Regions from separate parts of the Homo sapiens genome. Here region 1 is linked to region 2. Evidence: fine-mapped expression QTL. A gene starts in region 2. The other region holds a variant in brackets. All regions are shown on one strand. Distances are between the middles of the regions.

Evidence for each region.
Region 1: its variant is fine-mapped to the expression of CAMK4 in whole blood (INTERVAL, PIP above 0.99).

The regions. Positions count from the first base shown.
Region 1 is chr5:111,477,191-111,494,252 of GRCh38, forward strand. It overlaps CAMK4 (calcium/calmodulin dependent protein kinase IV), which reads left to right. Exons shown (of 11, transcript NM_001744.6): 9 at 1,191-1,317; 10 at 5,595-5,747; 11 at 6,836-17,062. The coding sequence ends at 7,276. Among named protein-coding and RNA genes, the nearest start is that of STARD4-AS1, 27 kb to the right of the region's middle. The variant T/A (reference allele first, on the strand shown) is at 7,419.
Region 2 is chr5:111,216,009-111,229,362 of GRCh38, forward strand. CAMK4 (calcium/calmodulin dependent protein kinase IV) reads left to right here and starts at 8,376. Exons shown (of 11, transcript NM_001744.6): 1 at 8,376-8,636. The coding sequence starts at 8,476. RefSeq lists enhancers at 7,505-7,604, 8,565-8,614 and a silencer at 7,965-8,454.

The DNA.
Region 1 (17,062 bases), 260 kb after region 2:
GGGAAAGGGAGAACACATTGGCCCAGGGGTCTGCACTGTCAGGCCTTGCATTTTTCTCACTGGCTCCAGAATATCTGGAAGAGACAAACATTCTCCCAGTGGGACATTCTGTGAGTAAAAGGACATACGAAACTGCTTCTTTCTAAAAACTCACTGTATTAGGATGCACTTTAATTTTTCATGCTATGTACCAACCTGGCCAGCTTGAGTGAAGCCTTTGGGAAAATGTCTTTTATTCATCCTCCCTCCCACCCTCATTTTTTTTCAAATGGAACACATGCAACACATGCCCTGCCATGGGCTTTTTTAAGCAGTTCCCTCTTGGTCCCTACTGATTTTAGAACTTCCACCCGTCTGTAAACAGTGGATGCTTGGTGGTCACAAACAACTCGCTTTTCCTTTCTCTCTTGTTAAGATGCCCAAGATAGTTCTCCGTCCCTTTTATCCCACTTTTCCCATTCATTTTTAAGTTGACTCCATAGTAGAAAATGATACAAAGAATGAGGTAAATTGAGGGTGCTCATCTCTTTGGCTGCATCTGGTGACTATATTAATCTTATACATTTTTTAAGGTCATTGCCTGACAATAGTTTCAGCTTCTGTCTTTGTTCACTCTGAAATCCAAACTGGAATGGAATGGAAATGTCATAAAGCTTTACTCATTTCTATGGAGGATTTCATAGAATAGGGCAGAATAAAAATAAGTGAAAATTTCTAATTTCCACTTTTTAATTTCTTTACTCTCAAAATCCCAGCTCTTCCCTTTCACACTAAATTGGAAGTCTATTCAATCTCTGTCTGCCTGTCTGTCTGTCTTCTCAATACCTGTCAAAAAATCCATGGAAAGGCTTTAGCATAATGTCTATAATGTTAGCTATTATTATTATTGTTCTTCTGTGTAATAAGAATTATAATAATAATTATTATTACACAATAATTATAATTATTATTATAGCTTTTTGTAGAAATCCTAAGTTGGTTTTATATTAATTCCTACTTCCTGAGGACTTGATTGTGTGTTTACACTATAAATAGTGAATTGTAATAAGGCAGTTGCATACTTAAGCTGAGTAGACTTGCTTCCATGGCAGGAAGCAGTGAAAAAGAACAGTCCTGAATTCCTACAGAAATTGGATGAAATATACTTGAGCTTTTAAAGACATTTTATTCTCTATATTTTATTCCTCTAGACTTTGTGGATTTGAACCATTCTATGATGAAAGAGGCGATCAGTTCATGTTCAGGAGAATTCTGAATTGTGAATATTACTTTATCTCCCCCTGGTGGGATGAAGTATCTCTAAATGCCAAGGACTTGGTAAGTGTAACCAAAACAAAATGAAACAAAATGAAATAAATTTATTTTTAACTAATTAATGGGAAGTACAATTTTTTAAAATTTTACCCATATTAATGCCATATTTTCTTTCAATTTTAAAGTATTTTAATAAAATTAGTTCATTAATACATTTTCCTTAGAGAATAAAAACTAGATATGTTTTTGACTCATCACTAGTTGAATTATCATAAACTACAATTACTACAGTATTAATGAGCTTTTACTACCTTATAAGTATAAAAACCTTGCTTATGAAGAAAGCTGTGCTGGGTGAATTCAAACACAATTTACACAGAATTCTGTTTTAACATGGCTTGCAATTGCCTAGAATTTAGATGTACTTCATTTCTTTTTTGTTTCTTTGTTTTTGAGACAAGGTCTCACTGTCACCCAGGCTGGAGTGTAATGGCATGATCATGGCTCATTGTAGCCTCCAACTCCTGGGCTTAAGCAATCCTCCCACCTCCATCTCCTGAGTAGCTGGGACACAGGTGCATGCCACCACACCCAGCTAATTTTTAAAAGTTTTTTGGAAATATGGGGTCTTGCTATGTTGCCCAGGCTGGTCTCAAACTCCTGCCCTCAGGCGATCCTCCCACTGTGGCCTCCCAAAGTGCTGGGATTACAGATGTGAGCCACTGCACCCAGCCTAGATATACTTCAAGTAAAACAATACTGCTTCCTGAAATTTCATCAAATTTATTAAAATATCCTAATAGTAACGTAAGTCCCATTATGCATCATTGGCATTATAAAAATGTTCCACTGTGTTAATAGTTCATTTTGTTTGTTTGTTTTTACATTGCTTCTCACTTAAGTTAATATTGACATTTGTTTGCATTCAGGAAATCCATACCTTCTGGGGAGGTCACTCACCTCTTATAAAATAAAGAGGATGCTAACATGAGATTGAAACATTTCTCATCAATCCACTAGAGAACAACCACACAGACATAATCAAAAGCTGACTTTTGAATCATAGAAGGTTAGATATAGAAGAGGTCTTAGGAGGCATCTAGTCCTCCTCTCATTTTAAAGATGAGAATGCTAAAGACCAGAGAGGTGAAATGACTGCTAAGGTCACACAGCTTCCCAGCAGAAAGACATTATTAGGGCTGATCCAGTCGTCCAGACTCCCTTTCCTGTGCTCTTTTTTCTTCAAGCATTTCTTCCTTACCCTCTGTGTTCCTTCATGGAACAGATTCCCTAAGGCTCATGGCTTTTCCAGCATGAGTGGGAAGAGAAAGTCAGTGTGTGTGATGTGTGATGTATAAATATGTCATTGCAACTCCTTCCTCAAGTCATACCCCATGCTCCTAAACACCTCTTGAATCCATCCAGTTCTCTCCCCCGGACCACTGCCCCAACCTCCTATCTGACCTCCCTGCCTCTTCTCATGCCTTTCTCAAATACAGTCTGTACAGGATCCAGAGGGATGGTCTTATAAATAAATCGCATCATGTCCTTGTCCTGCTTTAAGAATCTTAGGATAAAATCCAAAACCCATAACAAGATCTACATGACGCTGCCTGGTCTGGGGCCTGCCACTCTCTCCTGTGCCATCACTCACTTCACATCTCTCCCCTTTGATCACTTTTCACTCTAGTGCACCACACTTCTAGTTTCTCATCAGCATAGCTCAGGATATTGCCATGGCTCTTCTGCTCTGTAATGTTCTTTCTTCCTCCCCACCTTCTTCTCCATTACACATAGGCATGTAAACACACACACACACACACACACACACACACACACACACACCCCTGGGTAACTCTTATTCTCAAGCCCCAGCTGCCACTAGATATCCCTTGGGAGGCATGGTCGGCCTTCCCCTTCAGTCCCTCCCACCTATAGTTGGTTCCTTCTGCCAAAATCTTCCTTTACCCCCTGCACTCCCCAGTTCATAACAGTCATCACTTATATATTTAATGGTCCTCCTTAATTAGATTTTAAGCTCTGGGGCAGGACAAAGCGTGTGTACCCAGACCTTAGAACCACATAGGCATATAGGACTGACTCAGTAAATGTTTATTGGATGAAACAATGGATCTGGAAGTACACCGTGAAGTTTCAGAGTCTGACACACCTGGATTTAAGTGCCCCCTTTGTCATGTCCTGGAAGTGTAACCTCAGGCTCATGATCTAACCTTGCTATGCTTTAGTTTTCTCATCTAGGATGATAATTGTACCTATCTCTAGGTCGTTGTGAGAATTAAGGAACATAATATATGTTAAGTAACTAATATCAACTAACTTAATAATAGTAATCTTATTTAGCCCTCCTTCCATTTCTTTTCACCCTTAATAAATATTAAGTGAATAAGAGGGTTAGCTTTGATGTTCCTTCATTCAGCTAGATCCCTTGTTAGTTTATCACTGCTTAAAACTTCAGAACTGGAAGAATCCTTGAGCTCCATAAATGTATACTTACTAGCAAAACCCACATCTGTTGTGTCATCGGCAGAGACTAAGTGCTAAGGAGTTGGGGAATTGGATGTAAGGGGTACTGCAGGGTAATGGCAAGGCTTTGAGTGTGATTATAACCTTCAGAAAGTTTCCTAATAATTCAGTTAGGATTGTTATCAATATCTTCAAATGTAAAGATTAACAATGGTGTATATAAATTTTTGGTGCACATTGACTTTCAATAAATTCTTTGTATTTTTGTGAGGAAGATAGTAATGAGGAGGGAGAGGAGAAAAATGATTGGAAAAGAAAAAGAAAATACCTAATTGTCAAAAATGTTGTAAGGATTAGGGCTCATTTACATAAAATTATTAGTAGTCCTGTTCAACGGATAATAGCCATGACTACTATCAGATTTTTATTTACTACCATGCCTTCTTTCTCTTAACCATCCTACCTTCCTCCATGTCCTCTCAGATTTTAAGCCTAAAGAGCCTCATGTCTCTGCCCACTACAAATCTAGCCCAAACACACATTCTTTTGCAGAAAGGAAGTGAAGAGAGAACCAGATAGTATTTATTCCTCATTTGACTTGCCGCCTGATTTCCTTAGCCTATGTTCACGTCTCCTTAGGTAATTAGAGTTAGAAAAGACCTGAGACCTACAATCATTCAAAGCTCCTTATTTTGCACATGAGCAGGCCAAGGTACAGGGAGATTGACCACCTTGGAGACATCATGCTGTAGTGGCCACAAGATGCGCTCTGACATACACAGACCTGAGTCTAAATACAGGCTCCATCAATTCCAAATTGTCTGACCTGAGGCAAGTCACTAAATCTTTCTGAGCTACCCTGCTTCCCTCATTTATGAATTGGCACTAGTAGTTCCAAATGATAAGGCTGCTAAAAGATTACATGAGTTTTTAAAAAGTTATATATGCATCTAAGAAGCAATTACAAAGGAATTAAAGTGGAAATAAGATTCTGTAAGGAAAGAGCCTGAGGGGGTGTCCACAGGCAATTTATATATTTGTCTATATCTAGGGTCACAAAAGTGGCGAGTGGCATAACCAGGGCTTGAACACACTTCCTGACTCCCAATAGTCTCTGCCTCATATCAGGTCACCCCTACTAAGCCCAGGACTGTGGATTATTTTATTTGCTGACCTTCCTGGGAATTTATTGACTGCCCATCCTCACAAGCAGGGGTAAACCTCCAAGAATGGGCTGCCATTGATTGGATTCCATTCTTTAGGCAAATCATGCCCTCAAGCCACTGACTTCTTGGATTATAAAATGATTTTTAAACTCTGGGCTTAGTCCTTCAAGTACCCTCAAGGGGTTAGAAAGAACTATAAACCCCAAGATAGAAACATAAGGTAGTATTCCATAAGTTCTGGGATACTCTCCCTTTTGTTTGCCATTTAATCCCCACAGAAAGAATGATGATGCATGAATGATTCCATTCTGTTACCATAGAGATGTACTTTAAGTTCTGAATTCTAGGTGATTGTGAAGCGCAGCCCAGAATTATTTTGCTGGTTCTGCCTTCAAAGAACTTCCAGTCCACAGGCAAGTGAGGAGCTGTTTCTTGACTTCTGTTGGAAAGCCGTCTGCCACTTTGGGGGTCTCAGGTGGTACATGGCCCTGTCTTCTCATACTCCCTCAGCTACTGCTACCTGAAGCTGTGCCTACCTACAGTGGCCCCTGAGGACTTAAACAATTTTTTTCTCACATATATTTAGTGGTACTGCTGGGAAATGGAATAAGATCTGGAAGTTTGTAAGCTGAGGGCAAGCCCAGGTCATCCTAAAAACCTCGCTAAGTTTATGGTTCTTTATTATTTCAGGTCAGAAAATTAATTGTTTTGGATCCAAAGAAACGGCTGACTACATTTCAAGCTCTCCAGCATCCGTGGGTCACAGGTAAAGCAGCCAATTTTGTACACATGGATACCGCTCAAAAGAAGCTCCAAGAATTCAATGCCCGGCGTAAGCTTAAGGTAAGATAGCATATATTTTGTTTTGTTTTGTTTTGTTTTCAAAAAATTTATCTCATCTTGATCTATCAATAATAGTTCTACCGTTCTTCATCTAATACTATTATCTATTTCTTAAGGCACCAGGGAAAATCCTGCTTTGAAACTCCAATAAGGCTGACACAAAGCTACTTAAGTTTTCTTATACTCTCATAAGGAATATATGATTAATAAAGGGAAATTTGTTATATAAGTTGATATTTACATATCAAATATATTATTGCTGCTTCTCATCTAATTAAAGTATACTGCTTAAACAGCATTGTTCAGGGAAAACTGATATTTATTCAGAAAGTTGTTTTCTTTCAGAATATGTAAAACTTGGTAAACAATTTTTGAAACTATATTTCCTAATATAGATAAATAATTACTTGACAAAAATTTAAAAATTTAAGTGATATAATAAATTACTTAACTAAATATATCATTTTATATAGTACCTATCGAATAGAGATTAGGAGCTTTTCTATTACATAACTGTGTTTAGGACTAGCTATGTAAGTAGAGGATCTCAGAGAGCAGCTGGGGGTCAGAATTAGGGTCCTATGCAGCCATTGCTTACGGTCTGATACAGACTAAATAAATCTGAAAGGCTCCATGGTCAAATTAATTATAAATACCCCAAATTAAATAGTATTGACTTCACCTAGGATTTCTCCAGCTAGTTTGATCACGGAACTCTTATATCCCCATGATGACATCCATGTGGTAAAAACTACTAACGTCCACAGAACTAGTGTTCCGTAAAACAAATACACCGGGAAACACAGATTAAAATTTTCAAAAATTGGTTAGCCACAGGTAAACACATGTATTCAGGCTTTCAGTTGTCCAGATGATTAAATACACTAATTTGTATTTAATTTGAGATGAAAGAGGTTTTACTGTTCATTCTCCAAATTTTCTTTTGGCAAACAATCTAGGAATAAGGTACTTTGAAAACTTTAACGCTAACCTATAAAACGGAATCCCTAAAAGCAAAGCTGGGGTTGAGCTCTGATGTGGGGTGTTAAAGCAGAGGTAACACTTGACACTCTTCTGTTTCCAATCAGGCAGCGGTGAAGGCTGTGGTGGCCTCTTCGCGCCTGGGAAGTGCCAGCAGCAGCCATGGCAGCATCCAGGAGAGCCACAAGGCTAGCCGAGACCCTTCTCCAATCCAAGATGGCAACGAGGACATGAAAGCTATTCCAGAAGGAGAGAAAATTCAAGGCGATGGGGCCCAAGCCGCAGTTAAGGGGGCACAGGCTGAGCTGATGAAGGTGCAAGCCTTAGAGAAAGTTAAAGGTGCAGATATAAATGCTGAAGAGGCCCCCAAAATGGTGCCCAAGGCAGTGGAGGATGGGATAAAGGTGGCTGACCTGGAACTAGAGGAGGGCCTAGCAGAGGAGAAGCTGAAGACTGTGGAGGAGGCAGCAGCTCCCAGAGAAGGGCAAGGAAGCTCTGCTGTGGGTTTTGAAGTTCCACAGCAAGATGTGATCCTGCCAGAGTACTAAACAGCTTCCTTCAGATCTGGAAGCCAAACACCGGCATTTTATGTACTTTGTCCTTCAGCAAGAAAGGTGTGGAAGCATGATATGTACTATAGTGATTCTGTTTTTGAGGTGCAAAAAACATACATATATACCAGTTGGTAAT[T/A]CTAACTTCAATGCATGTGACTGCTTTATGAAAATAATAGTGTCTTCTATGGCATGTAATGGATACCTAATACCGATGAGTTAAATCTTGCAAGTTAACACAACGTAACACTTAAAAGCATACATTTTCAGCAACCAGTGGCACATATTTGAAGTGAATAGTAGCAAATTGTTTTTGCTTTGAAAATCTAGCCATCCTACATCCTTTGGATTTCTTCACAAGGCAGTAATTCCTTTGAACTACTGCTTAGCTAATACTAGGTAGTGCTAAAAGACATGTTCCCATAACTTTTACAACATTTTACTTTTTATCATTGATGTGTTCAAACTGTTTACAAGGAGATGCTTATAGATGATAGTTGTACATATGTGCAAAAAAAAATCCACTTGCAATGGTAAGAAATTGAAGTATCCTTAAAGGCCATGAAGCCATATGTCCCTAAAGCCTGTGTGGAGAATGCTTTATTTTATTCTTATTTATATACACTATATTAATAATAACCAAAATGTTCTAAGATTCTGCCATTTTACAACCCTGGAGGAAGTAATTTACAAACTCACGCTGAGTTCCATTCTTTCCTTCACCTGCTCTCCAATAAGATGACTTTCTGATAGACAAAGCTTAGGGTGTAATAAACAGGGAAGAAAAGAAGGTAAGACTGTACTTAAACTGATGAAGATAAGATTGATTCCTTTTCATTTTCCAGATAAAATTGTATTTACTCATGAATTTATACAACTTTACAGATAAGAACATTTTAATGGATAAACTCTATAATTACCAAGTTGCAAATATTTAGAAAATTCTATTTCACAGGTTAGTGCCAAAATGTCTTCATAGAGTAGGAATAATATTCCATTTTAAGATTATTCATTATTGACTTTAATAGAGTAAGAAAACATTATTGTTTATCAAAGCTCTTTTTTTATCCAATTGATGGTTATCTACACATATCACTTATAAACTAAAGTTATTTATGAAAAGCTAGTATGTCTTTTTCTCGTATTTGGAATGAAAGTACCCACATTTTACAATGTAGTGTTGAGAATGTGGCTGCCAATAAATTTAGCACAATGCAATTTATTTACCTTAAAAAACAAACAAAAACAAAAATAAAGAAAAATACTGATTTCAAATCAGACTCTTAAAAAGCTGGAACATTAGACCTGATATTTTATTATGATTTTTCCCAGAATAAGTTTAATTTCTCTTTGACTTTCATAGAAACACTTTCCCCTTATAGAAATTGCACTATCTCCAATTTATTTCTAGTTTGAGTTGAAATGAATATTTTATCAGATTAATTATGTGTCACATTTTTGGTGGGTTTTCTCAATTTTAAAAAAGAATTCATTTTAAAAAATAATTATTTTCAGAGACCAAATAAAGACAATAAAAATGACTATCACATAAAAATCCTTGTTAAAAAAGAGATCTTAAATTATGTTGGCTCTCCCTCAAAACTATTAAATTAGAAAACGAAACTAAAGCTCCAGTTTGTAGAGGCTGTTGGACCTCAGTAGACATTCTTCTTTTCAATCACAAATCTCTCTCTACTACTGTTCTCATGGGAAGAAAACAAGGTAGGACTTCTTATCTTTCATAGTTTAAGAATCTGACAGGTCACTGATATGGAGCCCCTGAAGAAGCACATCATCTGGGCTCAGAAGATTATTTTTTGTTTTGTTTTATTTGTACTATCTAGTAGAGAGCACTTTTCTTATTCCCTCTTTCCTTCCTTCCTCATTTAATTATTCCCTCTCAGAATTCCCATGTTGTCCATTATAAGGGGCTCGCTATTTTTAACCTTTAAGAATGTCTTCTTTGTTAAGCATTAAGATTTCCATTTAAGAGGATCAATTTCCTGTTGTACTTTTTACCATGAGACTGAAACACACACACACACACACACACACACACACACACACACACACGTGTTGGAAGAGCAAAGAGAGGGAAGGGGGTCTTTTTAGAAAGTGGCACTTGGCGCTTAGCTGAAAGATCAGAACACATCATTCCTCCCTGCCCACCCCCATATTGTTCCAAGGGCAGTTGTTACATTATTTCAACACTAGAGTAGGGCGGACTGCATTGTTTGGCCCTGAGAACTATAGAAACAACGTTGCAAATACCATGCCCAATGTGTATTTTAGAATTTACTCATTTAAATGAGTGCATATTACCATTCCTCCATGTGAGTACTCGAGTTGATAATTCCCTCTATCTTTTTAAACCCATAAACTACATTTTTAAAAAAATCAATGGGAGTTTTAAATTTTGACTCATGTTAAAGATAAGATTCTGATAATGACTATATAGTGACTAATTTCATTGTTTCAGTAGGAAACAAATCAAACTTTCAAAAATGTTGGTCATTTCAGTCAAATTATTCAAAGATTTCATATACATACATCCTAAGTTAGGATAATTATGTTAACATTTTTGAAAGAACAGCCAATGTTTATATTGCTTGTTAAAATGGAATGTATTGTCTATCTCAAAGATTACTTAGCTAAATAATAGTAGACAAATGGAGATTTAATTTCACAAAATACTTCATAACATCACTCCTAATTGGCAATATAGTCACAAAGCAAAAGAATTCAAATTTCAGCAAACAATAAATTACATTTTACATTTTAGAGCTAACACTTATCACATTACATTATGGGTTTTTATTTTGAGATAAGTTCAGCTACATAGCATAAACTAGGTTTTTTTTTATAACCATGAAGGACAGTCTTGAATTATTTCCCCCATTAACAAAGTCTAATTGGAATCCAGTATTTTTTCTCAAACTGTAATTTCACTTGTCCCAGGACACATAAATAGGTAAAAATTAGAATAATATCGTGGTAGAAGTTAATTGTCCAGAACAAGTGCATTATATAAATATAATGCAAGCACATGTCATTTAAGATTTTCTATTAGTCACATTTTAAGAAAAATAGATGAAAGTATAGTATTTTTAATCCAATTCATCCAAATTATTCTATCGATATATAGTCAATATTAAAATTTAATGTGATATTTTGAATTCTTTATTTTTATACTGTTTTCAAAATCAAGAGTGTATGTTAGGCCTTTGGGACATCAAGTGCTCAATAGTCACATGTGGCTAGTGGCTACCATATTAGACAGCACTAGTCTAGAGTACTTTTTATTTTAAGCAAAGTGACACTTGAAGTTCTATGCTTAGATTTAAGTGGCCTCAGTTTTCACATTGAGGAGCTGGTGGGAGGCCACAAAGAAAGTGTTTCAGAAATGTTACACACTGAGTAAAAGCTTATTGACCACTCCTGCCCATTCATTTACTTCAGAGGAGAAATGATTCCTAACATGACTTCAAAGAACGGGCATTACTAAATTATCTACTGACCAATCCCTCTGATTCCTGATGGGCCCTGGAGTCTTGACTACAGCCTAGAGTCTCCTGAGTACTGCCATGATGCCAATAGCATTCTTGCTTACCAAAATCTACTCTCAGCCAACTATGTGTCTTCATTCAGGAAGAACTGCACATAGAATCTGATTTTGAGGCCTGGATTAAGCTTCATGCCATCCTTGTATCACAGGCAATATGTCTTTCTGGAAATCTAATGAACCATACCAAATCTGCATGATGAAGATTGTGTAATGATGGTGATATCATGCCAGTTATCCTCAAAGTGGGAATATGACCATTAGCTGGCATTTTTTAAGATTTCCTTAGAAGGGTTTAATCAACACTGCCATTACACATGGATTTAACAAAAGACTTTTGAAAATTTTTTACATACTGATTTTAGAATAATCCTCAAGGTTCTATAGTCATTTTTAGTGGAAGACTTAAAAAGAAAGGAACAATTTTTACTGTGACTTCAATTTCATAGTATTTTAAACATATTTTGTAATTCAGAATGTTTAGCAATCCCTATGTCCTGTTTCACATGCATGGTAACTGATGGTGGGTTGCCTACAGGCTGAAGATTTGGAGAGAGCCATTTTGTTTCATAAATCAGTTTTTATTGCACAGAAGCAGCTGGTTGTATTTCAAGTTGGAAAAAGAAAAGTAAATGCCAGAAAAGGCAAAGGATAAACTTAGTAAGCCATTTATTTTGTTTTAGAATTGTTTTTGCAAAGCAAATTTTTTTAAAAAAAGGTCAACAAAGTGAATCAGCACTAGCATTTTCTTGATGGTTGACTCAATGTATAATTAACAAATATACATAGCAGAGTCAATTAATCATAGTGCCATTATGTCACTTATTTGTCATTGCAAAGTATTCAGTCATGTTGTCTAGATTTACTTTAGATGGTGCAAAATTTCCAGATAGTAACCTATGTAAAAGGATTTGTAATTTCCTTGTAATTCCTGCCTATTAGTCCATATTCTGATTTCCTTATGTTCATCACTGATATGTTCCTGATCAGGGTCATTGCTAGTAGTTGAGCATTTACTGGTTGAACATTGTTTAATGGTTAGATGTTATGTGTGTCTGCATTTAAAAAAATTGTGTACATGTTATTTCACTATTGGTATTACAATATTCATAACCACATGATAAACAGAAATGTACCCAATAATTTCCTATAAAATTTTTCAAAGTCCTTTTATTCCCCTGACACACTCAGGGTGAATTTTTGTCTCCTTGGCAAATAAGAAAAAAAAGGAGAGAGACCACTGGAGAGATATCAGCAAACCACCCACAGTAACCAAGTTCAGTATTTCCTCTTTCTATATTTTGACCAATATATTAAGAGCAAATTTTGTCATTATTACTCCTTGTGGCTATTACCTGAGATCAGATAATATAATCTCAGCTCATAAAGCTTGGCCATGTCTATACTTATCTTGGAGAGCAATAACAAACTTGATTAATTTGTTTGGTTATTTAAAATTCCAACTTTCATAAATGCTCTGTGATGTACTCAAGACGATTGGGTTGTGTGATACTAACTTCCTTCAAGAACTCAGTCTGTTCCCTGTTGTCTGGTTCAGAGGTCCACCAGGGCAAAATAGAAGCCTTGCCGAGAAAGTGAACTGTCTTACTCCTTCAAAGGAATCAGATGTTGCTCTAGAGAAGACTCCAGGCATCTACCTGGTTGAGCTCAAATGAGGCAAGTGGGAGAAAACCTCTTCTCATCCTCTGATTGAAAGTGATACAATTTGAATATTGGTATATTGTCATTGGTCAGTAATGGAAAAATGAGATTCCACCAGTGGGTTACTCTTTTCTTGTCTTGGTTTGCTATGCCTTATCCCAGATCAGTGTTTTGTTCCATCCCTATGGTCATCTCTAAAGCCCTGACAGGAGCATCCCAGACTGGAGAAATGCAGCGTATCTGTGGCCCAGAATTTTGTTTGATACTCTAAACAGCAATGCAAAGACTGCAAAATCACACTATTCTAAACAGTTGTTTTCAGCTCATTTTGAAGATTGACCTGGAAAACATATAGATACAGAATATATACATTTAATCGTTGCTTGTGATTCATTGTGTCAAAATAACATTTAATTTTCACTCTGATTAATCTTTATTTTCCATTTAAAAGATTATTTCAGGCTACTTAAATACAAGACCTTGCATTCTAATTTTTGAAAGCGGTTGTTTTCCCTGAGCTCTCTCTCAACTTTGACAGTTTGTGAATGATAAAAAGTTACTAGGTTTGTCCTTTCCTTGATAGATGTAGAGCAGTTCATCTGTTTTGTAAAGGTACAGTTAAGCATAACTATAGGCTGGGCGTGATAGTTCATGCCTGTAATCCCAACACTTTGGGAGGCCGAGGTTGGCAGATCACCTGAGGTCAGGAGTTTGAGACCAGCCTGGCCAACGTGGTGAAACCCCTAATACAAAAATTAGCTGGGCATGGTGGCACGCTCCTGTAATCTCAGCTACTCAGGAGGCTGAGGCAGGAGAATCTCTTGAACCCGGGAGGCAGAGGTTGCAGTGAGCCAAGATCATGCCACTGCACTCCAGCCTGGACAACAAGAGCGAAACTCCGTCAAAAAAAAATATATATATATGACCATAAATTGAAAACTATCATCTCATACTGCCTCCTTTTAACCTGACCTATTTTATATACCTACAATACAGTTAATATGCAGCAGCGTAGAGAACAAATAGCATATTCATAATTTGTAATTTTGTTTTTCTTTTTACGGCACCCTTAAGTCTCAGTAATATTTTAAAAGTCCTCTATAAGCCAAAAGAACGTTGTAACATATCCATTTATTAAGGAGTTAGGCCTAAACATAGTAATAGTAGTCCATTCCATGTCCAACAGATGTTGCTGTGTTTCTTTCAACATTTTTCAATGTCTTGTGAGTTTAGTGAGTGGGTACAGCTGAGTTGGGGTTTAGGTGATTTCTTATGCCCAATGAACTAAAGGTATCAGTAAAAGATTATTAGTAAACAAATTAGTTATTTATGCTCTTACTTGAATGTCAGTCATTCATTTTATCTCTCGTCTTTGAGATACACACATTAAAACTTATGTGCATATTTTTTTAAAGAGTAATTTCCACATAATTCCCCAAGAACTGAACTCAAATCTCCAAAAATTTTTCAGAACTCAAGCAACCAATGATTCACAGAGCAAATCTACCAAAGCCCCATTTTTATTGGAACACAGGCATGCTCATTTATGTACATATTGTTTGTGGCTGCTTTTATGTTGTCAAGGCAGAGTTGAGTACTTTCAACAGAGACCATATGGACTGCAAAGCCTAAAATGTGTATCTGGACCCTTACAGTAAAACAATGACCCTGGGTTTTCATGGCACCCCAATGCCTTTTTGGTGACTTGCAGGAATACAGATTCCTATATTCCAGTTTGTTTTTTTTTTTTTCTCCTTAGCTTAAGGTTCGTATTCCCATTTGCTTCTGAGAAAGTTAGGAAAATTTTGTTTTATGTTGCAGATGCTCTCACAACAATAATTGTGCTGGAGATAGATACAACTTAGTGAAATTTTCCTACAGAACTAAAAACGCAAAATTGCATCACTCCTGAAGAAAAGAAATTTAGAGTATGAATTGAGTTGGTTGAGAGTAGAATTAAAAAGATTTCTAGCACTTTGAGCATGTTTTAGAAATTTGATCCTTACATTTAAAATTATGTAAATGACATCTTTCACTGGCATTTGCTCACATTTAAGTCAATCTACAGCTGTTACTTACTAAGCTAAGAAATAAGAAGATCCCTATGGTTCTGAATCTCTCATAATATTCTGAAGTAATTTATATCAATTGAATTTTCATTAATCATTTTAGGAAATATTATGTTTTATTTTGTGGCATTATATGACAATGACTTTCTCAACAATAGCTCAGGGAATACGCAAACAGCCAGCTCTTTTATGTAAGAAAGCCATTTTCTAATCCCCACGCTTTCCTGAGTGTTACGTATTTTATTTCTTTGAAAAGAGAGGGCCTTGAGTAAATGCTTTCGTTTGCTTTCCTTACATATTTAGAAATCCAAGAAGGGCCCTTGTCTTAGTCTATTTCTGTCACAGAGAAATTGTTCATTCCAAAATATCCACCTTAAGGGAAGCTAGTGACCGAGATATGGAGAAAAACATAGGCATTCATGACCTTTGTGTTTCCGTTTGACTTTCAACATCTGTAACCAAAAGGTCACAAATGAAATATTTAGTAGAAAGTGCAATATCAATTTATTAGGAGTACCTAAAATTATAACTCTAAATAATATACAGCAATATTATTGCTCTATTATTACAGCAATCAATAATATAATATAGCCACTAGGATACACTCGCTGTAGAACTCAGAACAAAAGATATCAATCTTCTGCCAGTCCGCATCATTATGTGTAGCAGAGACTTTACTGGAATGAGTGAGGGGAAAGATAACAAAATGTAGATTAGGATTCCACATTCTCCCCTGCCCATCTTCTTGATTGCTCAGTTTGAAGACGATCATTGATGGACAAATACTTTAGAAATGAATGAAGTCAATAGCTAATGTTTCTCCCAGAAACTAAACAACATAGTTTAGGGGATATTAGGCCTACATTCTAATCACATTGTAAGGAAGTGATTTTCTAATTTTGAAGCTTCCCAGGAGCAGCCCCCTCCAGGAACAATTTTCCCTGTGAACTTTCACTGAGAAACTATTATATGCCATGGAGGAGTCAAAGATGAATTAAATCCAATGCTATCCTCCAGGAGTGAGCTTTGTAGTTGGAGAGAAAAGCCAACCTTATAGATACAACCTGTACATATATAACCTATGCTGCATTTAGGCAGATGATAAGCCCTAGGAATGGAAAGAGGGAAAAGCTCCCTTTTGCCAGGAATGATGAAGGAAAGCTTTATGGAAACACAGGCTGTATGTGAAAGATGGGTGAATCTTTGCAGGTAGGGAAGAAGTAGGGGGCATGTCTGGCTGAGAACCGGCCTGATCATAGAGTGGAAAAATGAAAGGCAGAGGTGAAGGAAGAATACTAAATGTGAAAGGCTGAAATACACAGGGAAGTGTTGCCAGTGTGCAACAGAATCTCATCTCGTGCAAAATTGAATTAGACTTCCTTACTCCTTCCTTACTCTGGGTAGGTCCATGTGCAGCCTTTCCTCAGAGCATCTAGCCTGACATACTTGGCTCATCTGCTGTGCTTCTAAGCCAAATAAAAATCATCAAACACATCGAAGATATTTTTGGGAGTCACCAGGTTAAAGCAAAGCCTCAGTCACTGAAAGCAAAAACTGAATTGGCCAGGTCTCCACTGACAAAACAGAGTAAATGATAGTATGACAGATAATTTCAAGTTTTCCAAGACTCCAATTTCTGAAAAATGTCTCATGACTCCAAAAAATCACGTACTTCCTAAAATGTTGCCAGTGGAGGACCGAATCAAGGTTATTGCTGACCTCATTTTTTCAACCTTTTCAGTTATTTGACCTGAATAGGCAATCCCCCAGGATTTCTGATTGAATTCTACCTGAAAGTTTAGATTTTAAAAGACAACCTGTAGGAAGCTAAGTCTCAGGCAACAAAATTTAAAACCATCAGAACTTGTTTCTCCAAACATCAACCTGCTCCTGTCAAGTCCTTTTTCATCTCTCCCTTTTGTCCCTTTACATACTGTTTTGTAAGTTCCTTTTGATATCATTTATTGCAGGCAGTATTTTTACATCCATCTTCAAGAAACTTGGGAGACATTTAGACATTTAGTATGTGTACTTTTAGTTGTCTTGCCTCTTTATTTCAGATAATGCCTGTGATTAGTGAATGGCGGCATTATTCCTGAAGACAAATGAAGGAAGATAGGGAGCAAGATTGACTGTCATTTGAATGATGGAAGAGAAGTAGAATTACTGTGAGGTTACAAAAATCGTAAGTTAGCAGACATTGAGAAAGGAAAACTTCCTACTTGGGCTTTTCAGGCTTATGTGACATTATCTGGATGTGTTTTCTAGTCTTTCCTAAAGGAGAAATTTTTATTCCTGGGTTGCTGAAAGCTTTCTGGACTAAAAGGATATAAGCAGCTCAATAGCAGCATAGAGGATTAGATTAATGGAACAGCACTGCATACAGGAAAGCTACATCTCCAATAGTTTAGGCTGCAAGTCAGTAGCCAAACACAAGAGCATGTAAGATTTGGAGGACAAAGTATAAATATTTTAAGTTTACACAACCAA
Region 2 (13,354 bases):
GATTCTATTTCTGTACTCTATTCTTTACCATTGACCCCTTTTTTTCTTGTTATACTAATATCACAATGTCTTTATTTCTGTCTGTTTATAGTAAGTTTTAAGGTCAGATAGAGTTCTCCAACTTTGTTCTTCTCAGGACTGTTTTGGTATCCCAGATGTTTTGTATTTCTTTACACATGTTAGCATACATTTTTCATTTTCTACAAACAAAGCCTATTAAGATTAGTCTGCATACCAGTTAGGGAGAGAATTGTTATGTTAATAATACTGAGTCTTCCAGTCAATGAGCATGATATATCTCTCCACTTAGATTTTTTTCAACTTTTATTTTGCATTCAGAGGGTACACGTGCAGGTTTGTTACATGGGTATACTGCGTGATGCTGAGGTTTGAGGCATGGTTGACACCATCATGCAGGTAGTGAGCATAGTACCCAATAGGTAGTTTTTCATCCCATCCACCTCTTCCTCCCTCCCTCTTCTAGTAGTTTCCAGTGTCTGTTGTTCCCACCTTTATGTCCATGTTTACTCAGTGTTTAGCTCCCACTTATAAGTGAGAACACGTGATATTTGGTTTTCTGCTTCTGTGTTAATTCACTTAGGATAATGGCCTCCAACTACATCCATGTTGCTGCAAAGGACGTGATTTTATTATTTTTTATGGCTGTGTAGTATTCCAAGGTGTATATGTACCACATTTTCTTTATCCAGTTCACCATTGATGAGTACCTAGGTTGATTCTGCCTTTGCTATCATGAATAGTGCTGCAATTAACATACAAGTGTAAGTGTCTTTTTGGCAGAACGATTTATTTTTCTTTGAGTATATACCCAGTAATGGGATTGCTGGGCCAAATGGTAGTTCTAAGTTCTTTGAGAAATCTCCAAACTGCTTTCTACAGTGGCTGAACTAATTTGCATTTCCACTAACAATGTATAAGTGTTCCCTTTTCTCTGCGGCTTCACCAGCATCTGTTATTTTTTGACTTTTTAGTAATTGTCATTCTGACTGGTATGAGATTATTTCTCTTTGTAGTTTTGATTTGCAAAAATTTCACTTAGCAATATCTGGTAATTTTAACTGTAGATGATTTGGACATCTTCTGTTGAATTGATTCCTAAGTATTTTATGCTTTTTATTCTATTGTAAATGAAATGGTATTAGTGAATTTTCCTATCATTTCCTATTAGTATTTGTTTTATATTGTGATTGTTTTATATTGACCTTGTATATTGTGACCTTGACAAATTCACTGATCAATTGTAGTAGTCTAAACCAACTTTTAGAATTTTCTATATAATAGTCAAGTCATCGGTACATGACAACAATTTAACTTCTTTCTTTCCAATATTAATAACTTCTAATTTTACCTAAGTTAGAGCACTGGCTGTGCCTTTAATTTTAATTGTTTTTATTAAGATGTAACTTAGGTACAATAAAATTTATCAATTTAAAAAGTATAATTCAGAGTTTTGACAAATGAATAAAATCCTGTAATCACCACCATAACCATGATATAAAACCTTTCCATCACTCCCCAAATCCCTTAGAGTCTTTTGCATTTGATTCCCTCCCACTTTAGCCCTGGAGAACTACTGATCTGCATTCTGTCACTTCAGTTTTGCCTTTCCTTGAATATCATATAGAGGGAATTATTTGTAGTATTTTGTGTTATATATATAACCCTCCTTGGGTTATTTATTTTGTTCAGTGAAAAATCCACCAATAGTTGTATGGCTAGGGGCAAAATAGACATAAACCTATTTCTCAACATTCTGGGAGCGTGTGCCCTCAGGGGTCTCGCTACTTATCGTGCAGAGTTTCACTTAATCTCTCTTTTCAATATGGCCTCAGCTGTATCTTCTGACCTAAAACATATTTCGTTCCTTGTTCAACATTTACAAAATTAAATATATTATCTTCTTCTAGGCTTTGGTAGGAGTGTTTTTTGGCTGTGAATTGTTAGAAGAGGTAATCCAGGAAGCCTAAAAGCTTTAATTTAAAAAAAGAATTTGTTATGAATACATAATATTTGCACTTATTTATGGGATACATGTGATATTTTTATACAAACATACAGTGTGCAGTGATCAAATCAGGGTAACTGGAATATCCATCCCTTCAAGCATTTATCACTTCCTTGTTGTTAGAAACATTCCAATTCCACTCTTAGTTATATTGAAATATGTAATAAGTTACTGTTAACTATAGTTGCCCTATTATGCTACTGAACATTAGATCTTATTCCCTGTATCTAACTGTATTTTTGTGCTCATTAACTATCCCCTATTTATCCCCTCCTTGCTATTACCCTTCCCGTCCTCTGATAGCCATCATTCTACTCTCTATCTCTAAGAGTTCAATATTTTTCTTAGCTTCCACATATGAGTGAGAACATGCAATATTTGTCTTTCTGTGCCTGGCTTATTTCACTTAATGTCCTCCAGTTTCATCTGTGTTGTTGCAAATGACAAGATTTCATTCTTTTTATGGCTGAATAATATTTCCTTGTGTATACATACTACATTTTCTTTATCCATTCATCCACTGATGGATACTCAGGTTGATTCTTTATCATGGCTGCTATAAATATGAGAGTGCAGATGTATCTTTGATATACTGATTTCCTTTCTTTTGGATATATACTTAGCAGTGGGATTGTGGACCACATGTTAGTTCTATTTTTAATTTATTTATTGTTTTGAGGAACCTCCATTCTGTTCTTCACAGTGACTGTACTAATTTATATTCCCACCAACAGTGTACGAGGGTTCCCTTTTCTCCACATTCTCACCAACATTCATTATTGCCTGTCTTTCTGATAAAAGTCATTTATTAGAAAGATTGTATCTCATTAGAAGCTTTGGGTCACTGAGCCTGTTTAATGGTAGGTTTCACTCTAAGGTGATTTTCTGATAAAAGTCATTTATCAGAAAGACAGGGGTGAGATATTTCCTTGTTTTGATTTGCATTTCTTTGATGAATAGAAATTTCTTTATATAGTTGTTGGCTATTTGTATGTTTCTTTTGAGAAATGTCTGTTGAGATCTTTTGCCCATTTTTCAATCTGATTTTTTTTCCTGTAGAGTTGTTTGAGTTTCTTATATATTCTGGTTATTAAACCCTTGTCAGATGGATAGTTCGCAAATATTTTCTCCCATTCTGTGGGTTGTCTCTTCAGTTTTTTTGATTGTTTCCTTTGCTGTGTGCAGAAACTTTAGCTCGATGTGATTCAATTTGTCCATTTTGCTTTGGTTGCCTGTTCTTTTGAGACCTTACTCAAGAAATCTTTCCCAGACCTATGAAATGGAGTGTTTCCCCAATATTCTCTTCTAGTAGTTTCATAGTTTCAGGTATTAGATTGAAGTATTTAATCCACTTTGACTTGATTTTTGTATCGTGAGAGAGAGGGTCTAGATTCAGTCTTCTGCAAATGGACATCCAGTTTTCCAAGCACTATTTATTGAAGAGACTGTCCTTTCCCTAATGTATGTTCTGGGTGCCTTTCTCAAAAATGATTTGACTGTAAATGCATGAATTTATTTCTCGGTGCTTTCTTCTGTCCTACTGGCCTATATATTCGTTTTGATGCCAGTATCATGCTCTTTTGGTTACTTTACCTTTGTATTATAATTTGAAACCAGGTAATATGACACCTCCAGCTTCCCCCTGCCCTGGCCTCCCCTCAGGATTGCTTTGTCTATTTGGCTTCTTTTGTGGTTTTACATAAATTTTAGCATTATTTTTCCTATTTCTGTGAAGAATGTCATTGGCATTTTGATAGACATTGCATTGAATGTGTAGATTGCTTCGGGTGGTGTGGGCATTTTAAAAATATTGTTTCTTCCAATCCATAAACATAAAATATCTTTGCATTTTTTTGTGTCCTCTTCCATTTCTTTCATGAATGTTTTACGGTTTTCATTGTAGACATCTTTCACTTCTTTGGTTAAGTTTATCCGTAGATATTTTGTTTTATTTGTAGCTATTGTAAATGGGATTACTTTTTCATTTTCTATTTCAGAAATGCTACTGTTTTCATATGTTGATTTTGTATCCTGCAACTTTACTGGACTGATCAATTCTAATAGTTTTTTTTTTTTTTTTTTTTTTGGTGGAGTCTTTAGGCTTTTTTAAATATAAGATCACATCATCTGCAAGCAAGGACAATTTGACTTCTTCCTTTCTAATTTGGATGAAGGGGCCTAATAACTTTTTATAAAATTTTTTAACCAATGTTTTGTTCTCTGTTCTATGCCTCACCTTGAGAACTATCTGGTACTCTAACTTCTGAACATGTCTTGATTTTATAGTAGGGATTAGATTTCTTCTTATTGGCTTTTCCCATTGCAAATCTAGGTTTCTGATTTATTAACTCCTCTGTTACTGTTTGTTTACGTGTTCAAGATTCAGTTGACATCACTTCTCTCTTTCTTTTTGTGGGATGATAACCCTGTTCCTTTTCTGGTCATTTCAGTTGAGTTTTGATAAGAAGTAATGGTACATTTTGTATATTTAATTCCTGTTTCATCTATTTTAATATTTATTAATTTTTATCTATGTCTCAAATGAAAGTAAGCTGCATGGATTATACAAAATATCCTGTTTTTAAACTTCAATTAATAGCATTTTTACAAAAGTCAATTATGAAAAGCATAGATGTCAAATGACTAAAATTATGCTGAATATAAAATGAATTCTATAATCACCTCTGTACCATGAAATGGCTTTCTTGCACCATTGTTACCTAAAGTAGCAGGAGAAAAAAGGCTTACCATCTCCTTTAATGTAACATGCTTGCTTTGGGCTTATGTTGTAAAAGAATTGCTAAGAACAGACAAGCATTTACATGCAGTGCTGCTGCTGCTGGACTTGCCTCAAAGAAGTGAGAATAAAAATGGCCTAGCAACTATTTCATGCCCATTTGTCCACTGGTCAGTGCAAGCCAAGGGAAACTTACTGAGTCAAAGCTAGAATTTAGAGAGCTTTATTATCTTGCTTTGCTTGTGAACTTGATTTTTCAACACGATTAGTGAATCTATTCTCTGAAAAGTAACATCACGTGGGCATTTTCAGTCTTTCACCAAACAAGCTAGTATGTAAGTGAATTTGTATGAATTTGCATATACTTGTTATTTGTTAGAGCATTTGTACATTGAGTTTGTGCTCATCATTATAAAATTATCATGAGGAATAGTTTTTGTACAGTCATGTGTCACACAACATTTTGGTCAACAATGGGCTGCATGTGTAACGGTGGTCCCACAAGACTAATAGAGTTGAAAAATTTCTGTCACCTAGTGACATCATAGCCTAATCTTACAGTGTAATACATTACTCATGTGTTTATGGTGATGCCACTGTAAACAAACCTACTGTGCTGCCAGTCATATAAAAGTATAGTGTATACAATTATGTATAGTACATTATACTTTATAATGGTAATAAATGACTATGTTACTAGTTTATACTATGTTACCAGTAAATACTAGTATAGTATTTACTACACTATACATTTTATTGTTATTTTAGAGTTTTCTCCTCTAGCTATAAAAAAAGTTAACTGTAAAACAGCTTCAGGCAGGTCCTTCGGGAGGTATTCCAGAATAAGGCATTGTCATCATAGAAGATGACAGCTCCATGCATGTCATTGCCCCTAAAGCCCTTCCAGCTTTCAGTGGGACAAGATGTGGAGGCGGAAGACATGATATCGATGCCTGTCTCTGTGTAGGCCTAGGCTAGTGTGTGTGTATGTTTTAGTTTTTAACAAAGTTCAAAAAGTTAAAAAAGTTGTTTTAAAAAGAAGAAAGCTTATAGAATAAGGATACATAGAAAACATTTTTGTGCAGCTTTACAATATATTTTGTATAAAATACCTTGTATTTGTGTTTCAGCTAAGCATTACTATAAAGGAGTCAAAAAGTTTTAAAACATTAAAAAGTTTATAAAGTAAAAGTTACAGTAAACTAAGGTTAATTTACCATTGAAGAAAGAAACTATTCTAAATAAATTTAGTGTAGCCTAAGCATACAGTATGTATAAAGTCTAAGTAGTGTAATGTCCTAGGCCTTCATATCCACTCACCACTTACTCACTCACACGGAGCAACTTTTAGTCCTGCAAGCTGCATTCATGGTAAGTGCCCTATACAGGTGTACCATTTTTTACCTTTTATACCATATTTTTATTGTACCTTTCCTATGTTTAGATATGTTTAAATACACAAATACTTATTGTTGTGTTACAGTTGCCTACAGCAGAGTTCCCAACCCCCAGGCCATGGGCTGGTCTGTGGCCTGTTAGGAACTGGGCCACACAGCAGGAGGTGAGCTGCAGGCAAGCAAGCAAAGCTTCATCTATATTTACAGGGGCTCTCCATCTCCCACATTACTGCCTGAACTCTGCCTCCTGTCAGATCAGTGGTAGCATTAGATTCCCGTAAGAGCATGAACCCTATTGTGAACTGCACATGCAAGGGATCTAGGTTGTGCACTCCTTATAAGAATCTACTGCCTGATGATCTATCACTGTCTCCCATCACCCCCAGATAGGACCGTCTAGTTGTAGGAAAACAAGCTCAGGTCTTCCACTGATTCTATATTACGGTGAGTTGTATAATTATTTCACTATGTATTGCAATGTAATAATAATAGAATTAAAGTGCACAATAAATGTAATGCACTTGAATCATCCCAGAACCATCTTCCCCACCCCCTGTCTGTGGAAAAAATTATCTTCCAAGAAACTGGTCCCTGGTGCCGAAAAGGTTGGGGACCGCTGGCCTGTAGTATTCAGTATAGTAAAATGCTGTACAGGTTTGAAGCCTAGGAGCAATTGACTATTCCATCCAGCATAGCTGTGTAGTAAGCTATACTATCTGGTTGTGTACAAGTACACCCTATGATGTTCTTACAACTGCATCGCCTAAGGATGCATCTCTTCAACTTCTCACCGTGGTTGAGGGATGCATGACTATATATATTTTCAATTTCCAATCAGCTAGGAATCACATTCCTGTAACTACTTGATTGGATATTTTTGGTTGTTTGTTCACCAGTATAGCAGGCAGGCTTTTAAGAATAATAAATCCATAAATTAGATTAAAATATTGGACCATATTAATGGTTGGTGCTATCAGGAATGGAGACTTACTAGGAAGAGTTTAGCGCATGTTGGAGGAAACTCAGGAAAAAAAAAAGGCCAAAAGTAACACCTGTGAAGTAAGGTGAAAGCGCCTGGAGCTATTTAGCCAGAAATGAGTTGTGGTATAATAACTGTCATAGATATGTATCAGAACATGACTAATTGTTGTTCGTCTTTGCTGAAATCTGAAAAGAAAAAAGTTCAAGGGTAGTTTAAGTGATGTATGTTTAATACTGAGAAGAAGAGCCATGACAGCTGATGGACAGGACATAAGAATGCTTATCATGGGATACATCTCTTGGGAAGAGAAAAAGGGCTTTTACATGTAGCAGTCTTCCCTGTCATGAATGAGGACAGGTCCTGCCTTAAGGCAGAGGGTTTACTAGTTGGCTTCCACAAGGCCCTTCTAGAACTGTAATTCTGAGCCACTTCAGATGCTGAGATTGAACTCGACACAGCCAAGTATCTCCTCTTTTAGGAGCTCCAGCAGTGCCGAGGAGGCAGTGCCACCAGCAGCGACGACAGCATTTATTCCAACTGAAGACTTCACTCAAAGGTGAGTCAGGTCAGTGTGGACCTGGGCGCTTCCTTTTCCTCCAGCTCTCACTGGGTCCAGGCACAGGAGCCCTGAGGGATCGGCGACCACAGTACTCCCTCCCCGGCCACCAATATAAGCTTTGACAGAGGATGGCTGGTTAGCTGGTGTTAGGTGGGAGGGACTCGCCACGGAGACGCGCTCAAGGAGGGATGAGTTGCGCCACCACCACCTAGGTCCCTCTCTCGCTATCCGGCGGGGCCGCCCGGACCCAGGTGCTGCCAGGGTACGCCTGGCGCCCGCCATCCCAGAGCAGCGTCCCGCTGCGCACGGTCTCCCTCCAGCTCCGGTCCCCGCGGGAGGGCGCGTGGGATGATGCGCGGGTCCTTGTGCCTTCCCCAAGCTCCAGCATCCGGAGCCGCCCTAGCCGGCACCGCGGCAGCCACAGCCTGGGAGAGAGAAAGGAAAGAGGGAGGGCGGCGGGAAAGGCTCGGCGCGGGAGGAGGGCGGGTGAGGAGGGAAGGAGCGAGGGGGAGGGAGCCTCTCTCCTCAGCGGTGCAGCTAGTCTCCCTCCAGCGGGCGGCGACTCCGGGTTCCCCCTCGCGCCCTCTCGCAGAGGCTCGCCCCCTTCCCCGCCCACCGTCCCTGCGAGCGCGGGCGGCGGCGGTGGGCGTGTGCGCGCGTGAAGGACGCCGCCTCTCTCTCGCTCCTGCGTTCGCAGGCGGCGGCTGGCGGCCGGCTTCTCGCTCGGGCAGCGGCGGCGGCGGCGGCGGCGGCTTCCGGAGTCCCGCTGCGAAGATGCTCAAAGTCACGGTGCCCTCCTGCTCCGCCTCGTCCTGCTCTTCGGTCACCGCCAGTGCGGCCCCGGGGACCGCGAGCCTCGTCCCGGATTACTGGATCGACGGCTCCAACAGGGATGCGCTGAGCGATTTCTTCGAGGTGGAGTCGGAGCTGGGACGGTAAGGCGCGGGCTCCGGCTGGGGAAGCCCGCGGCGTGCACTGGGGGTTGTCCCTCTCGCAGCGACGGCTCGGAGGGTGCGGGAGCCTGCCTTCGTGCCCTTCGATTTCTCCCTACCTAGTTAGTGTCTTGAGAGAGAGCTAACCTTCATTCAGGTGCGGCTCGAGTCCTTCCCACCCCACCAGAGCGCCTAGGCCGGTGCAGCTGTAGGATCAGCCCGACTCCCTCCCACCTTCCCTCCTTCTCGCAGGCTGCCACTTCCCTTGGGTGACAGCTCCCACCGCACGTGGGCCCTGCTTTCCCAATTGATATCTTTGCTCACGATTATAGCTTGCCAGAGGGTCCTGTTTGTCTAGTTATTGTTTAGGGTGGGGGCCGGAGGGTGCCCCTCCAAATCAAGACAGAATTATTAAGTTAGATTCCTCCTCCTTCCCCTCGTCAAGCTCTCCAAAGCAAGTGACACGAGAAATTAAACTTAAATACTAGCTTCCCTGCAGAGTCTGCTCAGGAGTGAAGGGAGAAATGAATCATTTAAGAGAGTTGAAGGCAGAATAATGAACTAGTGTGGCTTTAAAGAGAAAGCAGCATATGGGATCCAGGCAGTGGTAATTAGTGAGAATGCTGCTGCTTCCCTTCTTTCATGGGCTGGAGTGATTTATTTAAATTATATATGCAACAGACCATCTCCCTAGGATTGCAGATATGTCCCCTATCCCTCCTCTGAAGATCCAAACAGGTAGCAGTTTGGCCTTCTGCATGATTCCATATGCTTTCGTATTTGTATCCATTGAAAATTATAGTTTTCTTTCCCTTACTTCCTTTTTTTTTGTCTTTTCTCTCTGTTATCCATAGGTAAGGAGATTTATTTTCAACACTTATTTTAGATCCAGGCTCTTTAGTATAGGGAATCTGAAGATGTAATTTCAACGGTTGACAAGTTGCAGCTTCTGTACTTACTACTCCTTTGCAATTTCATTTTTCATTCTCTTTTTGCTGGAAATAGTATTGCTAACAGCCTTTTTATTTTTTCAAGTCATTGGAGGATCCAGAGCAGGATTCTGGATGTTGGTATTTAGTGGGAAGATGTAATGATCACTGCCCACTCTCCCCCCACTTTGCTAGTACTATTGAAGGCTCATTGAATATAGATGTGTAAAATAGGCAAACTTCTGAATGAAAATTCAGTGATTTGTCACTGTTAAAAATGTTTTGAAGTATTTGAGCACTGAATAATGTATACATAAACATCCATTTTTGATCAAGTTTTTCAGTATTCATCTGAAGATCTATTATATATATAGGTGGAAATGAAAGGACAATGATGTCGATTTTTGTAAGGTCCAAAACATGCCTGTTATTAATTGTATGATGCGTGACAGTGGAACCATGTAAACCTCTGAGTAAAGGGATGATCTACTTAAAATTGTTTACTGGGTGTTTTATAAACTACTGTGTAGTAGAGGAAGTGCCTGATGCTGCTGCAGGGACTGTCCCAGTAGCACATCTGTTTTCAGAGTAACATTAACCCTAGATGCCTCAAATAGGCTGACTTATCCACACACGTTGTCTTTATGAATAAGCTTCATCGTCATGAAACTCAAGAAATTCACTTTAATTTGAAAAATGGGAAAAAAATAAACTGCCAATTGTATACCCCTATGAGATGGTAGCCTGCATAGGAAAAAACTGAGAAATTTGAAGTTTGGGTTTTTTATTTTTCAGTTCAGAATTACGTGTTGCAGTAAATTTTGGAGGACAAATATTAATCGGTTATACAGAAGCTTCTCAACTTATGATGGTGTTATGTCCCAATAAGCCCACTGTAGTTGAAAATATCAGAAGTTGAAAATGCATTTACTACACCTGTGCTAACAAACGTTGTAGCTTAGCCTAGCCTACCTGAAACATGCTCAGAACACTTAATATTAGCCTACATTTGGGCAAAATCATCTAACATAAAGCCTATTTTATAATAACTGTTAAATACCGTGTACAGATGGGATTTTGTAGACATGGTGAGATATGAAACACAAAACACAATATTCAAAAAACACTGACAACAGAGAACACTCTAGAGTTCCGGTTGTTTACCCTCCTGTGGTTAACTGGGAGCTGTGGCTAATGGCCGGTGCCCAGCATCAGAGAGAGTATCCTACCATGTATAGTTCAGGAAAAGATCAAAATTTGAAGTACGATTTCTACTGAATGCTATCACTTTCCCACCATCATAAAAGTCGAAAAATTGTAAGTTAAGCCCATCCTATTGGAGACCCTCTGTCTATACATTGCTAAGATTCTCGCTCTATTATCTAGTCTTATGATTACTGTAAAAGATCACAGAGTTAAACTACATTGAGGAACAATAAAAGCTAAAATGTCTTACTTAGGCTCTGTTTGTCAGCAGTAAAGCGTATTGTTAGGTAAGTTTTCTGTACATGGCAGCATTCGTGGGGTGCATGCTTACTCTGGCTGAGACTTTGAGAAGTATCATTTTCATTATCAGAAATTTTTAAGTAAATAAACTTAAAACATCAACTACTATTCTAGATATAATTATTAAGAATCGATAGAGCCAGAGAATGCAACAGAATGATGATCGTAGATATTGGCTGAGTGACTAAAATCTTCTTTCTTCCTACACTAGAGATCAAGTTGAACTCAGGTCATCAGTTTCAAGCCTTTACTCTCAGCTTTGGACCAAATCCACCTGCTAGTGTGACTCTAATTCATTAGTAATGCAGTTGTCATTAATATACTAAGAGAACAGTGCTTCTGGTGTTACGTGTTGCTGTTGTGGTTAGCTCTAGAAAGTAGACAGTCTCCACCAGAATTAGTGATTTGTTGGCTCCTCCATTACAGTTGTCTGTTGTAAAGTAGTGACTCCTGATTGCAAGAAGATTGGACGGTGACCACTGGGGCGATACACCCTGAGGATGTGTTTGGGAACTCAAGGGGAGCTAAACTCCCAAGGCTATATCCACCTGAAGCCCCTGGATAGTGCTGGCGAAGGCAGGTGCTGGCAGCACTGATCCACATGGAGCCATTGAGACCAAGACAGATGTGCTCACTTTCTTTTGGCAGGGAGGGCATAGAGTATAGGGGTTACGGGTGAATTAAAAGTATCAGGCAAAGTAATTTTCCTAAAATCACATTTGAAGACACTGTTTTGTTCATAGAGTTTTTCAAAAAGTTTACAAAAATCATGACACACACACATTCAACTCTACTTAAAAATACGAATTGGCCATGATCCTATTCAGGGCTCCAGATCCTCGAGAGCAGTTGGTCTTTTGCCCAGTGATTTGAGAAACTGGCATTTTAAAGGCTTTTCTGAGGGAGAAGGGAGCTGCCTCTGGTCCAGATCCCGCCCAGTGGTTTGGCACATGGAATGACAGGAAATGGCCCAGCCTGCTTGGTGGTGCAGATTTCGTCTGTGCATGCAAACCCATGTCCTGTTTTCAGTTGTCTCACCTTTAGTTTCTCACTGTTGTTCCATGTTGAAAGAAAAGATGATAAGAAAACCAGATGTATTCCCAGACATACAAATCCAAGGAAACCAAACCAAATGAAAGATAATTAGAACAAGAGAAGAATGTGTTAAACTATTTTGGAACCTTTTTTTTCTTTAAATTTAGTTCCCATTCCACTTACTGTAGTTTCTTTAGGCTAGGCACTTTGCATACTCCTCCCCACTGCAATGTAATTTTAAATAATACATTTATGTGTCACATTTATGTAAACACAATTATGTGTATACATTTATAATTTTAAATACATTTATTTGTCAACTCAATTAAACTAATTATATAGGATCCCTTGCTATATGTATTATTGTTTAGGAACCAAATAGATTTCCATAGTAAGGGGTGTGTGTGTGTGTGTGTGTGTGTGTGTGTGTGTGTGTATAAAACAGAAACAATTTCATAAAACAGTGTTTATTCTTATTACCAGCAATGCACTTTAATATTTTCTATTATATGCTGTTTGATTTCATCTATTTTGTTAAAAAAACTTGGCTGAACCCATGTGATTTCACATCCCACTAATGTGTTGTGATTCAGTTTGAAAAGTGCTGTTGTAGGCCATAAATCTGTGTGTGATAGATTAAGCTATGAGGCAGAGTCTTTTAAAGAAATTCCCTGCAGACCAATTGGCAACATTGGGTGGTATCCTTTTGGCACAGCCCTGTAGAGAAAAAGGCTCCTATCTTTGCCTCCAGGTCATTACTGATTTTTCCCCTTCTAAACATTTTGGAAAAACTCTGGTGTCTCCCTAAGGTCTGCTGGGCACACAGTAATTTGAACTGGCTAAGAGTGCCAGGGGCTGTGTTGGGAAGGAACTCAGAGACTGAGAAGTGGTATATTCTACATGGTAACATGTATTCTGGCTCCAGGTCACAGTGAGCAAATGCTTTCTATAAGGAAACACGAAAGCGTGCATTTTCTAAGAGAAGGGCTTCAGCCAATGTTCTTGGCTTGTCTTAGTGCTCTTGGCTCTGGTTGATATAACAAGATGTCTTAGACTGGGTGGCTTAAACAATAAATATGCATTTCTCACAGCTCTGGAGGCTAGGAAGTCCAAGATCAGGGTCCCAGCCAATGCATTTCCTCAGTTAGGACTCTCTGTTTTGCAGATGGCTGCCTTCTCGCTGTGTCGTCACAAGGCAGAGAGGAAGAGAGAAAGAGAGGGGAAGAGAGAAAGAAACCAAGCTCTCTGGTG